Linked DNA regions of Homo sapiens: regions 1, 2 and 3 are each reported to be linked to region 4. The links are microRNA targets in miRTarBase. Many come from high-throughput screens and were not tested one by one. Region 4 holds a microRNA gene; each other region holds the end of a gene's coding sequence.

Evidence for each region. The annotated mature microRNA hsa-miR-7854-3p reads UGAGGUGACCGCAGAUGGGAA and lies in region 4 at 3,565-3,585, shown strand. An mRNA with a match to its seed (bases 2 to 7 or 8) in the 3' UTR can be bound and repressed. Matches are read on the target gene's strand: a 7mer-m8 pairs with bases 2 to 8, a 7mer-A1 pairs with bases 2 to 7 and ends in A, and an 8mer does both.
Region 1: miRTarBase lists RFESD as a target of hsa-miR-7854-3p. Seed matches in the 3' UTR shown: 7mer-m8 at 1,480-1,486.
Region 2: miRTarBase lists PTPRB as a target of hsa-miR-7854-3p. Seed matches in the 3' UTR shown: 7mer-m8 at 1,227-1,233, 7mer-A1 at 765-771 and 7mer-m8 at 624-630.
Region 3: the mRNA of ZDHHC20 is a reported target of hsa-miR-7854-3p. Seed matches in the 3' UTR shown: 7mer-A1 at 4,233-4,239.

Annotation. Positions count from the first base shown.
Region 1 is chr5:95,655,399-95,660,398 of GRCh38, forward strand. RFESD (Rieske Fe-S domain containing) reads left to right here. Exons shown (of 6, transcript NM_001131066.2): 6 at 648-2,684. The coding sequence ends at 911. SPATA9 (spermatogenesis associated 9) reads right to left here. Exons shown (of 5, transcript NM_031952.4): 5 at 2,917-3,515. The coding sequence ends at 3,225. Among named protein-coding and RNA genes, the nearest start is that of RFESD, 11 kb to the left of the region's middle.
Region 2 is chr12:70,517,434-70,522,433 of GRCh38, forward strand. It overlaps PTPRB (protein tyrosine phosphatase receptor type B), which reads right to left. Exons shown (of 34, transcript NM_001109754.4): 34 at 1-4,078. The coding sequence ends at 4,056. PTPRB-AS1 (PTPRB antisense RNA 1) reads left to right here. Exons shown (of 9, transcript XR_001749196.2): 4 at 1-5,000. Among named protein-coding and RNA genes, the nearest start is that of PTPRB-AS1, 52 kb to the left of the region's middle.
Region 3 is chr13:21,374,138-21,379,137 of GRCh38, reverse strand. ZDHHC20 (zDHHC palmitoyltransferase 20) reads left to right here. Exons shown (of 13, transcript NM_001330059.2): 12 at 400-477; 13 at 2,483-5,000. The coding sequence ends at 437. It overlaps LOC124903130 (nitric oxide synthase-like), which reads right to left and starts at 2,449. Exons shown (of 1, transcript XM_047430813.1): 1 at 556-2,449. The coding sequence starts at 1,894. The coding sequence ends at 1,544. It also overlaps the pseudogene MIPEPP3. RefSeq lists an enhancer at 1,678-2,194.
Region 4 is chr16:81,530,378-81,535,554 of GRCh38, forward strand. MIR7854 (microRNA 7854) reads left to right here and starts at 3,525; the gene lies at 3,525-3,589. The region is part of intron 1 of CMIP (c-Maf inducing protein); the gene reads left to right. RefSeq lists enhancers at 1,903-2,404, 2,405-2,904.

The DNA.
Region 1 (5,000 bases), not on the chromosome of region 4:
TTGCTCCTCAAACTGTTGTCCATAGACCAGCAACTTTGGTGTCACATGGGAGCTTCTTAGACATGCAGAATCTTGTCACCCCAACCCCTTAGACCTACTACATTTAAACAGAGAGACATGCATTGAAACAAGATCCAGGTGCTTCCTATGTTTTTTAAAGTTTGAGAAGCACTTCACCAAGACAGTTAAAAAGTTGAGAATTAACTACTTTGGATCACAAATTGCTCTTCTATTATCATATGCACTCATGCCTTTAGTAACTCCTTTTGAATTTATATCTGAACCTTACAGTTCTTCTAGAAGCTAGTGAAAATTCCTATAGAAGCACTTGAAGTCCTTGCCCCATTTCTGTCAAGGAGGCGACATTAACATCTAATAGATAACAGCACAGCTGCAGTCACATGGTTTAGTTGCCTGAGCATGTCAGTCTTCTGATAGAGCTCTAACTGGCTTTCTAATCAACTGTAAAAGAGCTTGATGACTCTTCTCAGATTAGGATCTGCTTTATGCTGAATAATTTGTACATAGGAGGAAAAAAAGAAAAGCTAACCTGTTTTTTTAACCTGGTTCTTCTGCAGCAGACTCTTCAGAGTCTATCAAGAACATTTGACATGTCAGAATATTAAATGAGTTATTCTCTTCCCCAGGATTTTGATGGACGACCGTGTATAGTTTGCCCCTGGCATAAATACAAAATTACTTTGGCAACAGGAGAAGGTCTGTACCAGTCTATAAACCCTAAAGATCCATCAGCAAAACCCAAGTGGTGCTCCAAAGGAATAAAGCAAAGGATTCACACAGTGACAGTAGACAACGGAAATATTTATGTGACTCTTTCTAATGAACCTTTTAAGTGTGACTCTGATTTTTATGCCACTGGAGACTTCAAAGTAATTAAGAGTTCTTCCTGATAAAAAATATATAGAAATGAAAAATGTTGTGTATGCTTGAAAACATTTTTAGAATAACTCTGCTTCAGTTTTAAAGGTGATGAAATTTTTCAACATAGGCACAACTGTTTAAAATTCACATACATTTGAGAGGTTTAAGAGCACACATACTTAGTATGATGTAAGGATTATCATCAGGATCAATAGAATACATTTTATCGAATCTTCTGGATTAATTAGAAACCTGAAGGTTATAGGTTTGGGATGTTCTGTTTAAGAAGGATAAAAATAAATTTGGAGTAAACAAATAATAGGTAAAAATTAAGGATTAGTAAGAAAAAATTTTTTAATTTAAAAAATTTAATTTTTAAAATAGGAAAAAATCCCTGTTTGATGTAGCAGACTTAATTCTGGAAAAGTTTTAGTATATACAAAGTAAACAGACTATATAATGAACTTCCATCACTCAGCTTTAACAGTTATCAGCATTCTTCCATTCTTGTTTTATTTATACCTCTGTGGATTTGCTACCTCTCCTATTTGATTGTTATTTTTACATTTTTAGGAAAGTTTAAATACATTGAAATGTTCACCTCTGAACTGTGCAACCTTCCTAAATAACAGACTTTTTATACTTAAAAAATGCCTCCAAAAATGAGATAGGTTTACCTGCTGAACTTGAAAATAAGAAACTTAACCACTGTTAAGTGATCTGTGATCAAGGCAGATCTTGAAGTAAGGAAGCCAGACACAGCTGCTGCCCAGCCATGAGAGATGTAAAGTCTCCTATTCAGTGAGCCAATGTTCTTTGAATGCCTATATGAAATTTTCAAATAAAGATTTTTAAAAACGTTTTAGAACTTTGTGAATGTAGGCACAACTAAGTGTCTCCTATAAATATTATAGAGAGGAGATCTAGGGTTTTGTTCCTTGGAGTTCCCGAGCAAGGTTGATGTTCAGTTGGTTCACCCTGGTTTTATCATGTCAGTTATTTATGGTCAGTACCATTCAGTTGCAATGATGGTCATACCGTACCAGTTGTAATGTATTTAAAATAACACCCCAAGCACCCACCATGCAAAAATCAGCAGCACATAGTGGTGATTTTTGCATGGTCAGTGCTCATGCAAAAATCACCACTATGTGGGACCAGAAATAGCTAAAATGAGTAGATGATGAATTCAGAGTGAGAAGAACTGTCAAGATTGGAACCTAGTCTCAAAGCACAGTAGTATTTTTAAAGGAATAGAATTAAGAATCTAAATCTAATACTTAACATTCTAAGGAGCCGACCTGGACTCTTTCTCTTGGTTATTATAAAAATAGTAAATGAGTAAGGTCCGTATAGTAAAGACTCTGCTTACTTACCTTTACTACATATTATTACACTTCCTTTTCTGTTGGAGTTTGGATAGCATGAGTAGCACTTGGTCCTCATTTCTCAGACAACCAACGAACCAGACTTGGGCTTTTTATAGATACTGTTTGTGGTAGCAGCTACTTACTAAGTACAGAAAATGTACTATCTCTCAGGAAGGTACATCCCAGTCTATTCTATCATGTGATAATCCTTCAATGCCCAGTCAGGTCTTAACACATGTCCAGAATATAAAGTGTACAGAAGAAATCAAAGTACTTTCTTCAGGCAAAAACTAGCCCTGGTTTGCAGGAATAATTACAGAAATATTTTCTCATAGGAGCCACTGGCAATAATGAGTAGTGTGCACTTGATTTTTCATTCTAAATTTGTATCTCTAAATCTAGAAATAAAAATCATATCATGTACTGTCTTCATATACAGAAATCTTCTCATCACATTGGTAAGTAATATTTTGTTTTATAAATTTATGACATCTGTGAATTGCAAATCCTTCATAACTTTGCAAGTGATTTACAAAATAATAATAGGCAGACTCAAACTCTCCAGTCTGCATATAAAAAATAAATATTCTTTTATTTTGATATGCACCATCTTGATGGGGCTTTTTTTCCTCCCAAGTAAAGAATTAGACACTCAAAACAAGTCTTTAATAAAAACATTAATGTATTATAAATATGCTTATATTATAAACCACAGTGTAAAGTCTAACCTACCAGAGGATGGATTTTCTTGTTCATTAAAAGTATGTAGTCAGTACATATATTCCACATCAATATTCATTTTATTTACTCTATCATGTAAATACTAGAAAATGACATTTTAATAGTAGCCCCCTTCTCTTTTTTTTAAGAAAGCAGAGCAATTCAGAATATGTAAACTAGACTCTGAGTTTTGTCAGATGAAATGTGCCATTAAATAGATAACTCTTAAGTTCTGTTCAGTGATACCTGTATTCAGATTTGCTCATTCATTTCAGCTGATTGGTCAAACACAGAATGTAAAACTTGGATGTTATTACTCTGCTTATTAGCAAGAAGCTTGGGGTAATCTGAAATGTCTGGCTTCTCCGGCAATGACCTATAAGGTTTTGCTTTGATTTCACCTTCAGCAAACATAGGCTCCGAAAGCACAGGCTCAGAAAAGGCTTTTCTACAATTTTCACTCTCCTCTCTGTTTTGCCTTATGGATTCTTCTTCCTGGAAGATGTTCTTTACCTTCTTCAGCACAGCATTAACACAGACTGCCTATACAATAAAAAGAGTTTGTAAAGTGAAGTTTCTTTTTAAGCTACTAACCACAGATTAAAAACATACAATATAGTGTTCCACATAAAGTCATTTAATCTACATAATCTAATAAAAAACACTTCTTTTCAGGACCTTCAGGTACATAATATAATAAGCATTGGGAGATTGTTCTAAATAATACATTACAATCTAGAGAGCAATTTAAAACCTAGTATGCTTCAATAAATATATGTTTTACATCTTTTCCCCCCAATTCATTAGCTGTTTTACATCTTTATTCTCTTGATGTAATTAAATGAAACATTTTCTGAGAGATGGAATTTGTCCTCAAACATGGTTTTTCTCAAAGTAGTTTTTTTGTTTTAATTTTCTTCCCCCTAGACTTTGCTTATACTTACATGTGCAATGAAAGGACATCAACATATCAGTAAGAATTTAGTAAGCTACTATCAGTGGTTTCTGAGCAAATATGTGATCCACTGTCCCCTCCAAATATGCCACTCAGTACTTTAAGGAGAGGAGTGTCAAAAATAAAACAGAGAAAAATAACTTCAGAAATTCAGAACCACTAAGGACTGCATTAATTAAACTTACTCTGTAAGTTTACTAATGATGAAGATGATGATGATGCTGAGTATTCAAGGCACGCGGTGAGAACGGAAAATTCATGAAATATGAGAAGACTTAAACCAGTTTATTTCACCGAAGAAATGCCTCAAGGTAATATAAAAGATTATAAACACTTAGAAGGTTTTCCGAAAGAGGTAACAGCAAAAGGATTGAGGTCCTCAGGCTTGAACAGCCTCAACTTCCTCTTGCCCTCCTGCCTCCTGCCTCCTTCTTGCCTGCCTCTTGCTATAGAATTGAGGAACACAAGACACTTTCCCTCACTTCCCTGCAGTTAGTTCATTAGCTACCCTGTAACTAATGAAATAAAATGATATGTCTGCTGGGATGGAACTCAGAAAGGATTTTTGGAAAAGTTTTTCCTCCTATATAGACTGTCTTTTCCCTCTACCTATCTCCCTCTTCCTTCTTTGAACACTGATAGTATTGTGATGCTTGATCATGAGGCAACAAACCTAAGGACTAAAAAGTTTTTAGAAGAAAAAGAGGGAAAGACCCTGTTGTCTTAGGCTTTTAGGGCTGCTGTAACAAAATACCATGAACTGAGTAGCTTACAAACAATAGAAATTTATTTCTCACAGTTCTGGAGAGTGGGAAATCCGAGATCAAGGCACTGGCAGATTCAGGGTCTGGTGAGGGCTGGTTTTCTGTTTCATAGATGGTACCTTCTATCTATGTCCTCATATGGTGGAAGAAACAAGGCAGCTGTCTCAGGCCTCATTTCTAAGGGCACTAATCCCATTCATGAGGACTCTGCTCTCATTACCTAATCACTTCCCAAAGGCCCCACTTGCTAATACCACCACCTTGGGATTAGATTTTAACATAAGAATTTGGGGGAAGCACGGACATTCA
Region 2 (5,000 bases), not on the chromosome of region 4:
TGATAGGGAACATTCTTTGAATACCTGATGTAATTCTAAATTTCAGGTTAAAAATAGCAGGGCAGAAAATTAGCACGGCATTTTCTCCTTCAACTCTTCAGGAATGAGGTAGGCTTGAGGGCTTGCTCACTGCAACTTGGAGGAGGATCAGTTATTCCTTATTGCCACTCTGTCTTGGCTAATCAGTTATATTTTCATTTCCTCAGTGAAATGGAACCCAGAAAGCCCTTGAACTGCTATCATATACAAGCAGTTTATTACCTATTGATTTTCACCAGGTCAGGTTTGGTCTGGCTCATGTTTGTAAACTAAAACTCTAGAGCGTCTCAGAGTTTGGGCTCAGATACTACCACTGCTGTTGTGCAGATCTGGTAGCTTTATGATTTCAGGATTCCAACCTCAAAGAATTCTTAGAAAGCTAAGTGAATGAGAATTTAGTATATGGCCAATAATATTATTGCAAAAGGTAAGGAAAATGTTTAACATAAGAAACTGGATCCTTAAACAGCAAGGCAAGAGAATCAGCATGTGAAGGGTAGCATGTGAGGTCTATTTTTATATTGCTGGACATCTGGTAAATGGTTTAATATTATTTTCACATGTCATTTTGGGCTTTCTTCCGAGAGGTGATTACAAAATTTATCAAAGACCCTCCCAAAGAAAACTGCCCCGAAAATGTCTGTGTGCTGTGTGCCTTTTAGTATTTAAAAGTGAATTGGCCAGGTGCGGTGGCTCACTCTTGTAATCCTAGCACTTTGGGAGGTTGAGGTGGGTGGATCACCTAAGGTCACGAGTTCAAGACCAGCCTGGCCAACATGGTGAAACCCCATCTCTACTAAAAACACAAAAATTAGCCAGACATGGTGGCAGGCACCTGTAATTCCAGCTACTTGGGAGGCTAAGGCAGAATCGCTTGAACCTGGGAGGCGGAGGTTGTAGTGAGCTGAGATTGTGCCACTGCACTCCAGCCTGGGCAACAGAGCAAGACTTCATTTCAAAAAAAAGTGAAATTATGGTCATCTCTTTGATGATGTGGAACCTGAAAGGACTATGAAATTATACTCATGGGTATAAAAGATAATATGAACAGTAGATAAAAATCACATTCAACTGGGAAAACAAACATATTCAAGTAGGAGGAGTGGGGCAAGTAATAAAACAGAGGGACTCAGAGGTTTAAGGGATAGAGAATTACTTAGGACAAATATGTGCAAGCCCAGGTAAGAGAGGTGAGTCTTTGAAAATTCTGATTCAAGAGCTGAACAATTGGCTGCTTTCCAGAGAACAACAGAATGACAATACAAAATTGATTTAATGAGATGAGGTTAAAGGAGTTAATTATAACGAACTTGGAAAAATAATTATTAAGATGCTAGATGGGACTCTCCCAAGATTTGATAGCTCAAAAGCACTTTGAAGTCTTGATGATTAAAGTGTACTGCACAGGTACACAGACAGGATGCCCACCAAGACAGGAAATGGAGTGTTTACCAAGACATAACACATGATGCAATTAAATGGAAATAAATCCAATAGAGCTGAATGTCAAGGAAAACTTTTTTTTTCTCCTAAATTTAATAAATAAGTCAATTATATATTTAGTCTTCCCAGGAGTAGGAGCGAATAGTGAAATATTTGTTGCTAAGAAGGTTTAAAATTAGGTGTAGGGTAGGAATAAACATTTCCTGGGTTGGATTAGACTAAAAAAACCTACGATTTTTCCCTGTCATGTCCATTTACATAATTCTGATACTACCCTAGATGTTGCCAGAGTACGTGAGTGTTATTTACTATTACAGATGCATAGGTTTTTTTTATGGTTTTAACTCCTGGTTTGTGCAATTAATTGCTCTCTCTCCTAGATCCAGAGGTTTGCTATTAAAGTAGCATTAGCACTTTCCAGTGTGTGGCCTGTGGAAGGTGACCACTGTCCTAGACTGGCTCAGTTATCCCATTCCCTTGATGAGGCTGTCTTTTAAGCTCAATTGAAGGTAGTAACAACAATCCTAACTTTATGAGGATTCTCTTTATGTGAGTAGAAATGTGTAGATTCTGGAACAGTGCCTAGCAGGTTGCAGATACTTACTAGAAGTTTTCTGAGTGAATGAAAAGTCGAAAATGAATGTATCCTTCCAAGCATTAATGTGCTTTGCATCAAGCAACATTAGTGTAAAATTCTGCTTTTTCTCTTTTTTCTTTTCAATGTAGGAAAGGTGATTTCTAATGGATGCCACACGTTGTAGATCTCTGACCTCTATTTTCTCGCTGGTGGTACATCTACTGCACTTACACATATGTTGTTCCTTTTCATTTCCAGAAGATTCACTTAGTTCCTTGATACAGAATCAGAGCTTAAGACTGTCATTTCACAAGAGCATTGAGCACAATGAAACTGTGAATCTTTGAAGCTTATGATTATGCTTCACATTTTTGTAAACTTCAAATAACCTTGGAAAAATTTCCAGATTGGGTGTAGAGTTATTTAATTATAAAGAACTATTTTAGGTATAGTCAATGATTTTCAATTATTATGTCAATTACATTCGTTGTATTCACTTACGGACTTTATGGTAGGTTACAAAAATATATACTTTGAAAAGAAATATACTCTTTATGCAAAGGAAGCTATGCCATCAACAAACTTGACCTCTAATTCCCAAGTTTATTACAGAAAAATTTGTAGTGTGAAAAAGGCAAACATCTCCAGCTCATCTTCTCAGGTATCTATGAAGATTCCGTACAAACTCCTTTCAAATTTTTCCCAGGAATGCTGTCGGAACTGGACCTTGATGAAGGAAATACTTTCTGACTCATTGGAATTTGTTATAGTCAAAGTAAGTAAGGCACAAATATTGAAGATAAACTTGGTACAGTATGTAGTGCCTTTTGTTATTAAATGCAACTTTGGGTGATTACTTGACATTTTGACTTCATTGATTTACTAAAAGAAGTTTTGAAAATTTTACTGAAGACCACTGTTTTTGTTTTTGCTATTGTTTTTAAATTTACTATATATGATGTTTGTAGTCATTTCTATGAAAATGTTGGCATTAAGCCTTTTAATGAGGGGCACAATCTGCTACCATAATATTCTTTTAATGGGAAATCAAGTAGGAATGGATAATTGTGACTTTTCTAGGAATGGAGACCACTGAAAATGAGACAGAAACTAGTGTGTATAAATACATTACAGTATGGGTGTGGATGTTCACACTCCACACCATGAATGCAATGAAAGGATCTCTAATCACTGTAGATAGTGCTTTGCATGTTATGTTTCCAGTCTGGGTATAGCTGGCATCTTATTAACAAAAGGAATTCATCACTTCTGTTTGGAATCATTCTCTATCAGAACCCTCAACCCTGCATCCTACCATCCTGGGCTTGCACTGCAAGTTACATGATCCCTGAGCTGACCACTTTGGCTTGAATCCCTGGAAGGAGAAAGGAGAGAGAGAGCAACTAGTTCAGACACAAGCATCTAGTTCAGCTTTGGTACTGCTTAATTCTTTTTTCTCCCTCCCTCTAATCCTTTTTTTGACTGTCACATTTGTCCTAATAGCAAGTTAGGACATGTCTGTTGGCTCTCGAGATTCATGGGACAGCAATGCAGCAAATCTAGCCATAGTATTTGCTCTCTCTAGCCCTGCCCTTTTTCCTGTCCAGTGAATATCAAAACAGGTAGAAAACATGGCCTGAAGGATTGTCTCTGCCACCACCTCCATATGCATTTTACCAGTAGTCCTGTCATACAGGTTGAATTAGTTTTATGTAGAACAAGTCATGAACACTTTAGTGTGGAAAAATAGTATTATATAAAGCTTAATATTAAACATTATGAAAAATACATATTTACAGAAGAAACTACAAAATACAACTATGTACAATAATATCTGTTACCTTTAAATTATATAAAATTTTAAACATTCTCCAGATTAATAAATTATACATAGTATCAACAGAAATAGCTGGCACCTCTGTAGGGCATGAAGCAAGTTTTTAAAAACAAATCACACAGTGAATAATTTTTATCCAGGAGCTCTTCAGGTACATTCTCAATGCCTTGAATAGACTGGATCTGAAAGGAAGAACACTGTAATTAGAGACTGCCGCAGGGTGTGTCATAATTGTTTACGCTGTTTATGAAAATTACCAATGTGAAAGACCAGCAGAAACATATAGCTCAACCTAGTTTAAGATGAGACCATTCCTATTGGGACCAGGTAATTCCATTTAGAAAGACAGATTATTAGACTTGGAAGGGACTAGTGATTCTAGCCCATCGCCTCTGTTTTTATGGATGAAGCCATAGGCCCAGAGAGGCAGAGTAACTTACTCAGGGTTACACAGCTTGTTACAGCTAGTTAGTTCGAGAGTTCGGACCTGAATCTTAGCCTTCAGCTACGTGGTGGTTATCCTTTTCTATACCATAGTTAGCTTCTTTCAGGAGTGCTCAAGATTACTCTAAAAAAAGATTCTTAAGTCAAAACAAGACAAAGGAACCTCCAAGATCCCTCAGAACTTGCTCATACTGAAGCCTCTTAAGGAATCTCCCATGCAAAAACCTTAATTTACTATACAGATCAATTAGGGTGTAATTTGTAATTATTCATAATACAAAATAATTATCTGATTTACAAAGGACTCCTCTAAATAGTAGCTCTTTATTTGTGCTTTACAGATGCTAACTCATTAACATACTGGCTAGGCTGGGTGGTAGAGAGAACTAAGTAAAAGGTTAGGAGACACTACCTGTTGAAGATCATTTAGAATGGAGATAAGAGGGTATGAAATAATGTTTGTCAAAGAAAGATTATCTGATTTATAGAGAGATACCAGTCCACATGGCAAGGAATTGTGGCTGCATCTGCCCACAGCCATGTGAACAAGCCATTATGAAGCGAGTCCTCCAGCCCCAGTCAAACCTTCAGATAATGGCAGCCCCAGTCTAAGTCTTGACTGCAACCTCCTGAAAGACTCTGGGCCAGAGCCACCAGTGA
Region 3 (5,000 bases), not on the chromosome of region 4:
TATCTTTAGGATCTTCATTGGGATCATTACATCTTTTGTATAAGGTCAAGGAAAAATTCCAAAGTTTAAGGCCAGCCTAGGCAATACTATTAAGGCCCGTCTCTAAAAAATAACAATCTAGGGAAAAGTTCATTTTGTGAACTTCTTAATTATTGCTGTTTAACATCTTTAAAGCCAATAGGTATTTCCACAAGATAAACATAAAATCAAACTTTTGACTGCTAATGTTAGCTCTTTACTTACTTCTAGGTTCTATAAGAAGACAAATGGTTGACACCATAAGCCTATTTTGTATTTACATGATAGTCATTTTTGCTGTCATTTTACCATTTAGCCAGAAACTTAATACTTCTTTTTTTTTTTTTTTTTGTCATGTCATATATAATTATATGCTTACAGGGACAAATAACCATGTAACAGTGGCAATAGAAAATTGAGTACCACTTGTTCATAACTAACCATTTGAATAAGAGCAAGGTAAGACAGTATAAAGGTAATCCTTGAATAAATGCAGCTTATTTGCATATTTCATAATCTTTAAACAATTTGCAGTTGTATTTTTTTAGTCTTTTTAATTATATCAGCAAAATTAGGCAGTACAGGAAAGACTAGAATGTAACATCTGCCCAAATCTCATTTTCCTTATTCCTTATAGAATAATCTTAGTAATTATTTGTTGGTAAATTAATGAAGAAACTAATAAAAATAGTTTAGGACTAGTATGTGGACCACTGGCCTTTTCAGAAGGCAGTACCTTATTAATTAAAGAAAAAAAGGTGGGCAGGCAAGGTGGCTCACACCTCTAATTCCAGCACTTTGGGAGTTCAAGGTGGGAGGATCACTTAAGTCCAGGAGTGAGAGACCAGCCTGGGTCAGATACTTAAATTAGTATAGTGAGACCTCATCTCGACAAAAAATAAAAAATTAGCCAGGTTTGTGTTGATGCACACCTGTATAGTCCCAGTTACGTGGGAGGCTGAAGTGGGAGGATCACTTGAGCCCAGGAGGTCGAGGCTGCAATGAGCCAAGATGGCACAAGCTGCACTCCAGCCTGGGTAACAGAGCAAGGCCCTGTCTCAAAAAAAGAAAAAAGAAAAAAAGGTGACTTTTGTCCACTATTGAGGAAATTCGACCCAGAGAAAAATGACCAAAATTAAAGGCTCTAAGAAAGAAATAAGAGGTTTATCTATGTTATATGGTTTGTAAAAGACACAGCAAGAGAAAATTGCTAAGTAGGAAATTACCACAAACATGGAGCTTATCGCATTTATCATCCTGTTCCTGTATAACAGGAGTTTGTTTTTCTAGAGGCATCTTATCTTTAGTGTCAGCTAGAGGAGCATCTGTTTCCTCACTTGTGGGCTTGTCCTCAGCAGTTAGGTCCTTGCAGAGGACCTGGAGCCTGCGGGCAGGGCTGCAGCCAGAGCCTAAGACCCAGGACGGAGTCAGATCACAGGCACTAGGGGTGGAGGTCACGTCGGGCAGAGTCAGATCACAGGCACTAGGGGTGGAGGTCACGTCGGGCAGAGTCAGATCACAGGCACTAGGGGTGGAGGTCACGTCGGGCAGTCAGATCGCAGGCACTAGGGGTGGAGGTCATGTCGGGCAGAGTCAGATCGCAGGCACTAGGGGTGGAGGTCACGTCGGGCAGAGTCAGATCGCAGGCACTAGGGGTGGAGGTCACGTCGGGCAGAGTCAGATCACAGGCACTAGGGGTGGAGGTCACGTCGGGCAGAGTCAGATCACAGGCACTAGGGGTGGAGGTCACGTCGGGCAGAGTCAGATCGCAGGCACTAGGGGTGGAGGTCACGTCGGGCAGAGTCAGATCGCAGGCACTAGGGGTGGAGGTCACGTCGGGCAGAGTCAGATCGCAGGCACTAGGGGTGGAGGTCATGTCGGGCAGTCAGATCGCAGGCACTAGGGGTGGAGGTCACGTCGGGCCGAGTGCGCTGCAGTCAGAAGAGGAGCTGTGTCCCGCATACGGTGATTGTAAGCCAGGTCCATGCCACCAAGAGCTGGAGCTGTGGAGTAGTACTTGGTCCCCAGAAAAGCCCTCAGTCTGAGGTCCACATTTCTTCTTAATGTGGGCAGAAATAATTGCTGATGCTTGTGGTGGTTGAGAATCCTCAGCTGCAGTTCCTTTAACAGTTGCTGTGGGAAGTTTTCTACATCTTGCGCCAATCTTAGGACAGGTGTAGGTGGACCAGATGTCTTCTCAGATGATGTCCAAGTTAGCAGTCTGGGAGTACTGTAAGATTCTTCCTTTTAAAATACTCTTTTGATTGCTTCTGGGGAAGACAGTAATACCCACTCATTTACTGCTACAAAAATCTTTATTGTTATAATATTAGTAGTGTTAAGGAATTCATTTTCCATCTTGTTATATTAGTAGCTTTGTACCTTAGCCCACAGAACCATTTAGTAAATATTTTCAGAAATAAAAAATCAAGTTTTAACCAATAATTTGTTTCTTTTTTTGTAGGTGTATGAAAACATTATAGACTGGTATTTTCAATTTTCATTTGCAAGAAAATGATCAGTGGAATGAAATAACTGAAGTATAACAGAAGATATATTTTTTAAAACGGAAAGCCTTTGTACAGTTCCTGGGATTCACAGAAGCACTACTCCAGAGCAGAATGATGCCTTAATCTTAAGTGTCCATTTGTGCAGCATTGACTTAGAGCTACAAAAGTGACTTAATGTTATTCTGGAAATAATACTTACCTGTTATGAGTTGCTATAATATGAGCTGTCATCACATTTTAACATGCATATGTATTTTTTGATACCTGAATTACATTATTAGAATAAGTATCCATATACATTTTCACTCCAAAAACACAAGCTTAAAAACTTTAAAGTACATCTAGGGCAAATGGTGGCTGAAAGTGAATAATATTCAAATTACTGTTGCTTGTACTGTATAAGGAAAACTGCTTTTTTAAATTGGGTATTTGCTAATTTATAATTACTATTTTATACTTTTCAACATTTTTAATAACTTTTTTTATTGTTGGCTATAACAGAAGGATTCAGATATCTAAATATCATTTAGAACATAGAACACATTGGTCTAATTCATCGAAAGCTTAGTTATGAGCATTAATACAACCATGTAGTAGAGCAAGTGCCCAAGGTTTAAAGGGAACTTGGCAGTATAAGAAATATTTTGGGTTCTCTCTGCTATTTTATAGCTTTTTTTGTTGAACTTTCAGGGGTATGTACATGGGCAGAGAAACACAAAGGTACATGTGCTGGAGAATACTGGACACAGTAGGAAGAAGTATAGGTGTCCAGAAGAAAATCTAAGAGGAATATTGTAATTTGTTAAAAAAAATAGTTTTGAGTTTTAACAGCAGTTAGAATAAAGCATGCTGTTGACTTCACTTTCAAATTTCAGTGTAGGTAATGACTAAAAATTACTTTGAAACTTTTTACAGTAATACTGTAATAGCTTAAACAGTGATTTAAAATGCAATTTAAACTAGGCAAAAAAAACTTTAGAGTAAGTTTTCCTCCTGGCTGTCAGTTGGAAATTCTAACCTGAGTGGTCATTTTACATTCCCAGTCTCTTGAGAAGTGGATTCTACTCTTAGACGCACAGTCTGAAGTCTGACTTCCTAACGGCAACCCCTTTATGACTAGACACATTTCTCCTTTTTCCTTTTAAAATCTAAGCGACAGGAGGTGTTGCATTAACTCCAAGGAAAAGTACAGAATAAACAATGTAGAAATGTCACTCCTCATTTACACCTTTTAGACAGACAGACACACACACACACACACCCCCCCCAAAATAATTGATTGCTTCCAGTGAGTGGGTGGAGATGAATCTCAGCAGCATCTGTGAGTACTACAGGTTGGAGCTTCCTGTCTGTAAAATGGGACTGCAGGGGAGGGGGTGTTGTGAATAAGTTGGACTGGATGACTTCTAACATTCTGTGATGCCTAATTTTGCAAAATCACTTTTCATTCACCCAATAAATTTTTTTCTTCTTTTTTCCACAGAGTTTTGCTCTGTCTCCCAGGCAGGAGTGCAGTGGCGGGATCTTGGCTCGCTGCAACCTCTGCCTTCCAGGTTCAATAGAGTCTCCTGCCTCAGCCTCCCAAGTAGCTGGGATTACAGGCTCATGCCACCATGCCCGGCTAATTTTCACATTTTTAGAAGAGACGAGGTTTCACCATGTTGACCAGGCTGATCACTAACTCCTGACCTCAAATAATCCACCCACCTCAGCTTCCCAAAGTGCTGGGATTACAGGCGTGAGCCACCACGCCCCGCCCCGGTAAATTTTTTGGAGTACCTTCTGTATGCTAAATAATAAACTAGGAATAGCTCTGTCATTTCCTAGTACAGCATAAATTTTATGGTTGCTACTGTAGGTTTATAATTTGTTTATAATTTGGCCTAATTTCCATCAGCCATACTAATATTGGATTTTAAAAGGAGGCAACTTTTTTTCTTTTTGAACCAAAGGAATGAGTTAGCTTTGAAAACATAATTTGGGATATTATAGTATGGATTCTTCTACCTTTGTTTCAACTCCTTAGTAATCTTGATTCTAGCAAACTAGAATGAGATTTAAGAGATACCAATTATTGCTGGGTGTGGTGGCTCATGCCTGTAATCCCAGCACTTTGGGAGGCCAAGGCTGGCGGATCACCTGAGGTCAGGGGTTCGAGATTAGCCTGGTCAAAATGGCAAAACCCTGTCTCCACTAAAAATACAAAAAAACCCCAAAACTGTCCAGGCATGGTGGCACACGCCTGTAGTCCCAACTACTCGGGAGGTGGAGGCAGGAGAATCACTTGAACCCAGGAGGTGGAGGTCGCAGTGAGCCGAGATCGTGCCACTGCACTCCAGCCTGGGCGACGAGTGAAACTCCATCTCAAAAATATATATATATATCAATTACCAACTAAAAACATAACTCCAGTTTGGCAGTTTGCATATTATAAGGAGATAAATGTTAAAACATACTTGACTACTTTCAGAA
Region 4 (5,177 bases):
TCGCCTCTGTTGCGCTGCAAGGTGGGGTGTGTAGTGAGTATCACTGTAACCTGTACTTTTCTAAAGTCAAACAGATTTCTCTTGGTGGGAGGACGTGTCTTTTGTGGGATCGGTGTAGCCCGTCTGAGTCAGTGACTCACCTGGCACCCCTGGCAGCTGACTTTCCTGGCAGTTCACTCGAGTCTCTTGCCTCTGCTCACAAAAGCCTGCGCCTTTATTCAGCTTTCCTCACCGCTTCCCAAGGCAGAGCAGAGCCTCTCCCGCCCGCCTCCCACATCTCTCCCTTAGCTGGGTGCCCGCGTGGCTGCTACCTCCGAGGCTTCTGTGTCACCGGGTAGTGGAAATGTCACCGAGTGTCAGAGCTTCGAGCCTCCTCCAGATCCATCCAAGGTGGCATCACTAAGTGGCATTTGTGTGCTAGGCACGTACCCTCTTTTACATACATTATCTTCGATCAGTTCAGCTTCTTCTGCATAAAAAAGAAATTTCTCTACCGTCCCAGGGAGAATAATTGGAAAAGCGAGCCCTGAGTACTCAGCCCACCCGCCCTTCTCCTGCTGAACTGTCGAACGTAGCCACCAGCTAGCCTGAGCTTGTTCTGATGTCTTCTGGGATCGTCATTGTTATGGGTTGAACTGTAGCCTTCAAAAGGCACGTTTACGCTGTAGTCTCTGTACCTGTGAGCATGACCTTCTTTGGAAATAGGGACTTTGCAGATGCGACCAAGTTAAGATCATGCTGGAGGTCATGCGGGAGGTCATGCTGGAGGAGAGTGGGCCCAAATCCAGTGACTGTGTCCGTAAAAGATGAGGGAAACTTAGACACAGAGAGACACACAGGGACGAGCACCGTGTGACAGCAGAGACAGATTCAGCTGCTAGCCAAGGAATGCCAAGGATTTTGGCAGCCCCAGAAGCCCCAGAAGCTGAGAGAGGTGTGGAGCAGATCCTGCCTCAGAGCCTCCGGAGGAAATCAACCCTGTTGACATCTTGACTTAGGACTCTCAGCCTCCAGAACTTTAAGAAAGCACATTGCTGATATGCAGGCCACCTGGTTTATGGTCTGTTGTTCAGGAGGCCCTTGGGACATCAATGCCCTCAGTCCAGTCTCGATTCTACGACCCTACCCGTGTTTTGTTTTTCACACCAGGCCGTCTCTACCCGCATGGTTAGTGCTGACCAAGTAGGAAGTTGGGACACTTGAGGCATCTCTGTGACGTGCTCACATGGCTTGAGGAGGCTCGGGCCACACCTCGAGGGGCAAGCCTGGGCCTGCCGCCCGACCTTTGCTTGGAGAACTGGGTTCACTGGGTTTAAGAATCATTCCTTTTCCTTCCAAGTTAACTGCTTTCAAGAGGTCAACCCGTGTGTCATGGCTTTTCCCAGACTGGCTGATTCAAACCATGTCACCACCAGGAAGGGGGAAACAGAAGATGATTGACTAAGAAACATTCATTTCTGTTGCAAATTACTAGTTGGGGCTAGTTGTTGATTATCTCACCTCCATTGCTATTTGTATTTAGAAATGGCTCATAAATTTGCTTACATGGGTTTGGTTTGTCTTCTAAATGAAATGATTGCACTGCACATACTTCTAAAACTGTCCTGCGATTTGATAGCTTCCATTTCATGGCGCTTCTTCTGGATGTCAGGCACTAAGTCGGGCGCTTTATTCTGTAGTTCTCCTAGCAATCTGGTGAGCTCCACTCTACAGATAAGGAAATCGAGGCCAAGGACAGCTAAAGAAGCGAGGTGCGCAAGGTGCCCAGGTCCGAAGTGTTTCCGCTGCTTTCAGACTGCAGTCCCAGGGCTCAGGAGTCCATGCTTTCTGCGTATCTTCACGCTGGCCACGGATCACCTCATCATTAGATGTCGAAGTTGAACAAGTGGTGTTCACATTCGGACGTGTGTTAGGTAGAAGTGTGTGTGCACCTGCGTGTGCGTGTATGTTCCACACGCTGATGCAGGAGGTATACGCACAGATATAATTGTCTTTTAGAAGATTGACTATCACTAATTTTGAAAAATTTCCTGAATGACCTTTCCTGCCAGGCCAATACATTGAGCCCAACAGATAAATCCCTGAACTTATTCGCAGTCTCTAAGTACCTTTAGAATCCCGGGGGTCGCCCTGAGCCTCCCCAGGGACTAGCGCTGTTGCCCTCGCTCAGTCTCGCCACCACAGGAGGCCTCGGCTTGCCCAGCAGCTGAGTCGGGAGAACCTTTCCCAGGTCCCGAGGCAGCGGGAGGCGAAGCCAGGAGACCCACCTGGTGCCAGGGAAGAGCTGTCACCTGGGCCTTTCCTCCAGGAGCCTCCAAGGAAGGTGGAGGTGTGACATCAGAGTGTTGGGATGTGGAGGGGTGTGACTCCCTGGGATGCAGCTCTGTGCCCTGACTCCAGTGTGCCATGCTTGGCTGATCTCTCAATGATTAACTGTGTGACCTTGGACACACCGTGTTGCCTCCTGCGCCTCTCTGCCCAGACAGCATGGCAAGTGAAAGCCTCCCTCCCTTACTGATGGTGTGATCTGGGCTGCCTCCTTGGACACGCCAAGCCTGCTGTGCCTCGAGGCCTTTGCCCTGACTGCTTCCTCTGCCTGGGATGCCTGTTGTCTAAACACCCACACCACACGCTCCCTCGCTTCCCTCCTGTCTCCTGTCAGAAGTCACCTCCTTGGGCTGTCCTTGATCATTCCATCCATCCAAAAAGTTGGCACCCACTCCCACAATTTTTTATTTCTCGTTCCCTGACTTACGTTTTTTTCTCCTGAGCATATGTTATCATCTGACAGACCACGCGTTTCTTACTTATTTTGTTTATTATTCCATCCCACTAGAAAGGCAGGGGTTTGCCTGTTTTTTCCCCATGACTGTATCCCCAGCATTTAGAACAGGGCCTGGCACCTGCTAGATGCTCAGTACATAGTTTTGAGTGAGTGAACGAATGAATGAATCATCAGTCAGTCAAACTTTGCAGCACTCACTTTGTCCATTGGAATAAAGTTTGCCTGTTAAGTACATGGTAGCCACTCAGTACATGGTAGCTAAGGTTATGTGCATGATTTTTTATATTATTGTCATTATGTGCTTTATTGTTTTTATTTTTATTTTTATTTTTTTGAGACGGAGTCTCTTTTTGTCACCCAGGCTGGCATTCAGTGGTGTGATCTTGGCTCACTGCAGCCTCCGTCTCCCGGGTTCAAGCAGTTCTCCTGTCTCAGCCTCCAGAGTAGCTGGGACTATATGCACGTGCCGCCATGCCCAGCTAATTTTTTGTATTTTAGTAGAGACAGGGTTTCACCGTGTTGCCCAGGCTGGTCACAAACTCCTGAGCTCAGGCAGTCCACCTGCCTCTGCCTCCCTAAGTGCTGGGATTACAGGCATGAGCCACCGCGCCTGGCCTATGTGCTTTATTTTTACAATCAGAGGGCTGCACTAGCAGATCTGAGAGCATGACCGGGGTGGAGTCCATGCAGGGCCGCAGGGAACACTAGTCAGAAGGAGGCAGTGAACCTCTCCTGCCCTTTCCTTCCATCTCCATCACCTTGAGCATCTTCTGGGCAGCTGAGGTGACCGCAGATGGGAAGGAAGGGCGCAGAGATGAGCATTTTCTTCTCTCCACCATCTGGTTCCAGGCAGGGCAGGAGAGGGCCCCGTGAGAGCTACTGCTCACGGCTACCACGGCTGCCTGTGGGTCAGAGCATCTCCACGCTGGAGCTGGGCCACACTGGTTCCTGCACCCGGGCAGCCTGTGGCCAGGCTGCGTTTCAAAGCCAGGACTTTCAGGAATGCACCCTTTTGACCACACAGCAAGGCCACACATACCCAATAGCAGTGGACTCTGAGCTCTTTAAAATTGTGAATGTTGCCCAGTGGCCCTCAGTCAGGATTTGTTCCATTAAACCTCATTCACTGCCCTCATTTTATGGGTTTGTTGACTGTTTGCATTTGCTCCGCAAGTTGTTTATATTCTTTGTGTGTTTTATTTTCAATTATGGCATGTGTCTTTAAAAAAAGATTGTAAGGGTTTCTTTTGAAATATAGAAAACTGTTCATCCTTTTTCAAATCATTTATGTAGCAGTTATTACTCTCCAACTTTTTTTGTTTTTCTAGTCTCTTGATTTTGTTTGAGGTATTTATTGATATATAGAAGTTATATATTTTTCTGTGGTCAGAGTTGAGTGTCTTAATTAGTGACTTCTTAATTAGTGTCTTCGTGGCTTAGAGAGTTCTTCCAAATTTTAAGATTGAGCAAACATTCCCCATAAAAAAAAAAACAAAACTATAGAACTGTAAAATTAACCTAGAACTAAGCACCTACACCCAGGATAAATTTTTGGTATAAGGTGTGAGGCAGGGAATAATGCTATTCCTTCCCTCCAAATAGTTAATGGATTGTCTGTTATCATTCACTCAATAGTGTGCCCTTTTCCCATTGCTTTAAAATATTGCTATTATCAGATACTAAATTTTTCAAATATGTGCTAAGTTTCCTTTTAGGCTTTCTGTTAGTTACCACTGATATACTGTCCTTGCTCTGCCACTGTGCTGTTTTATTCCAGCTTCATAGTGTTTTGTTTGTTTGTTTTTTGAGACGGAGTCTTGCTCTGTCTCCCAGGCTGGAGTGCAGAGGCGTGATCTCGGCTCACTCTAAGCTCTGCCTCCCGGGTTCATGCCATTCTCCTGCCTCAGCCTCCTGAGTAGCTGGGACTCCAGGCACCTGCCACCATGCCCAGCTAATTTTTTGTACTTTTAGTAGAGACGGGGTTTCACTGTGTTAGCCAGGATGGTCTCGATCTCCTGACCTAGTGATCTGCCTGCCTCAACCTCCCAAAGTGCTGGCATTACAGGTGTGAGCCACCACGTGGCCCATAATTTTTTTAAAATTGAGCCCTCTCCTTTTAAAGATGAAGGAACTGAGGCACCAGAGAGGTCAAGCAACCTGCCCAAGGTCACACAGCCAAATGCTGTCTGAGAATCTCACATGCATAAAATTCCAGTGTATTTAACCTTCTCGTGGGCTGTGTCTCATGATGCTTCCCTGTGCTTCTTTCCTGTCACTTCTGCTCATGGTATAGCACTGGAATGCTTTTTTTTTTTTTTTTTTTAAACAGCTGTTGTACGTTCTTTCTCTAAGTGGAGCTAGTCAGAAAAAGCTGCATGAAGCTACTAGCAAG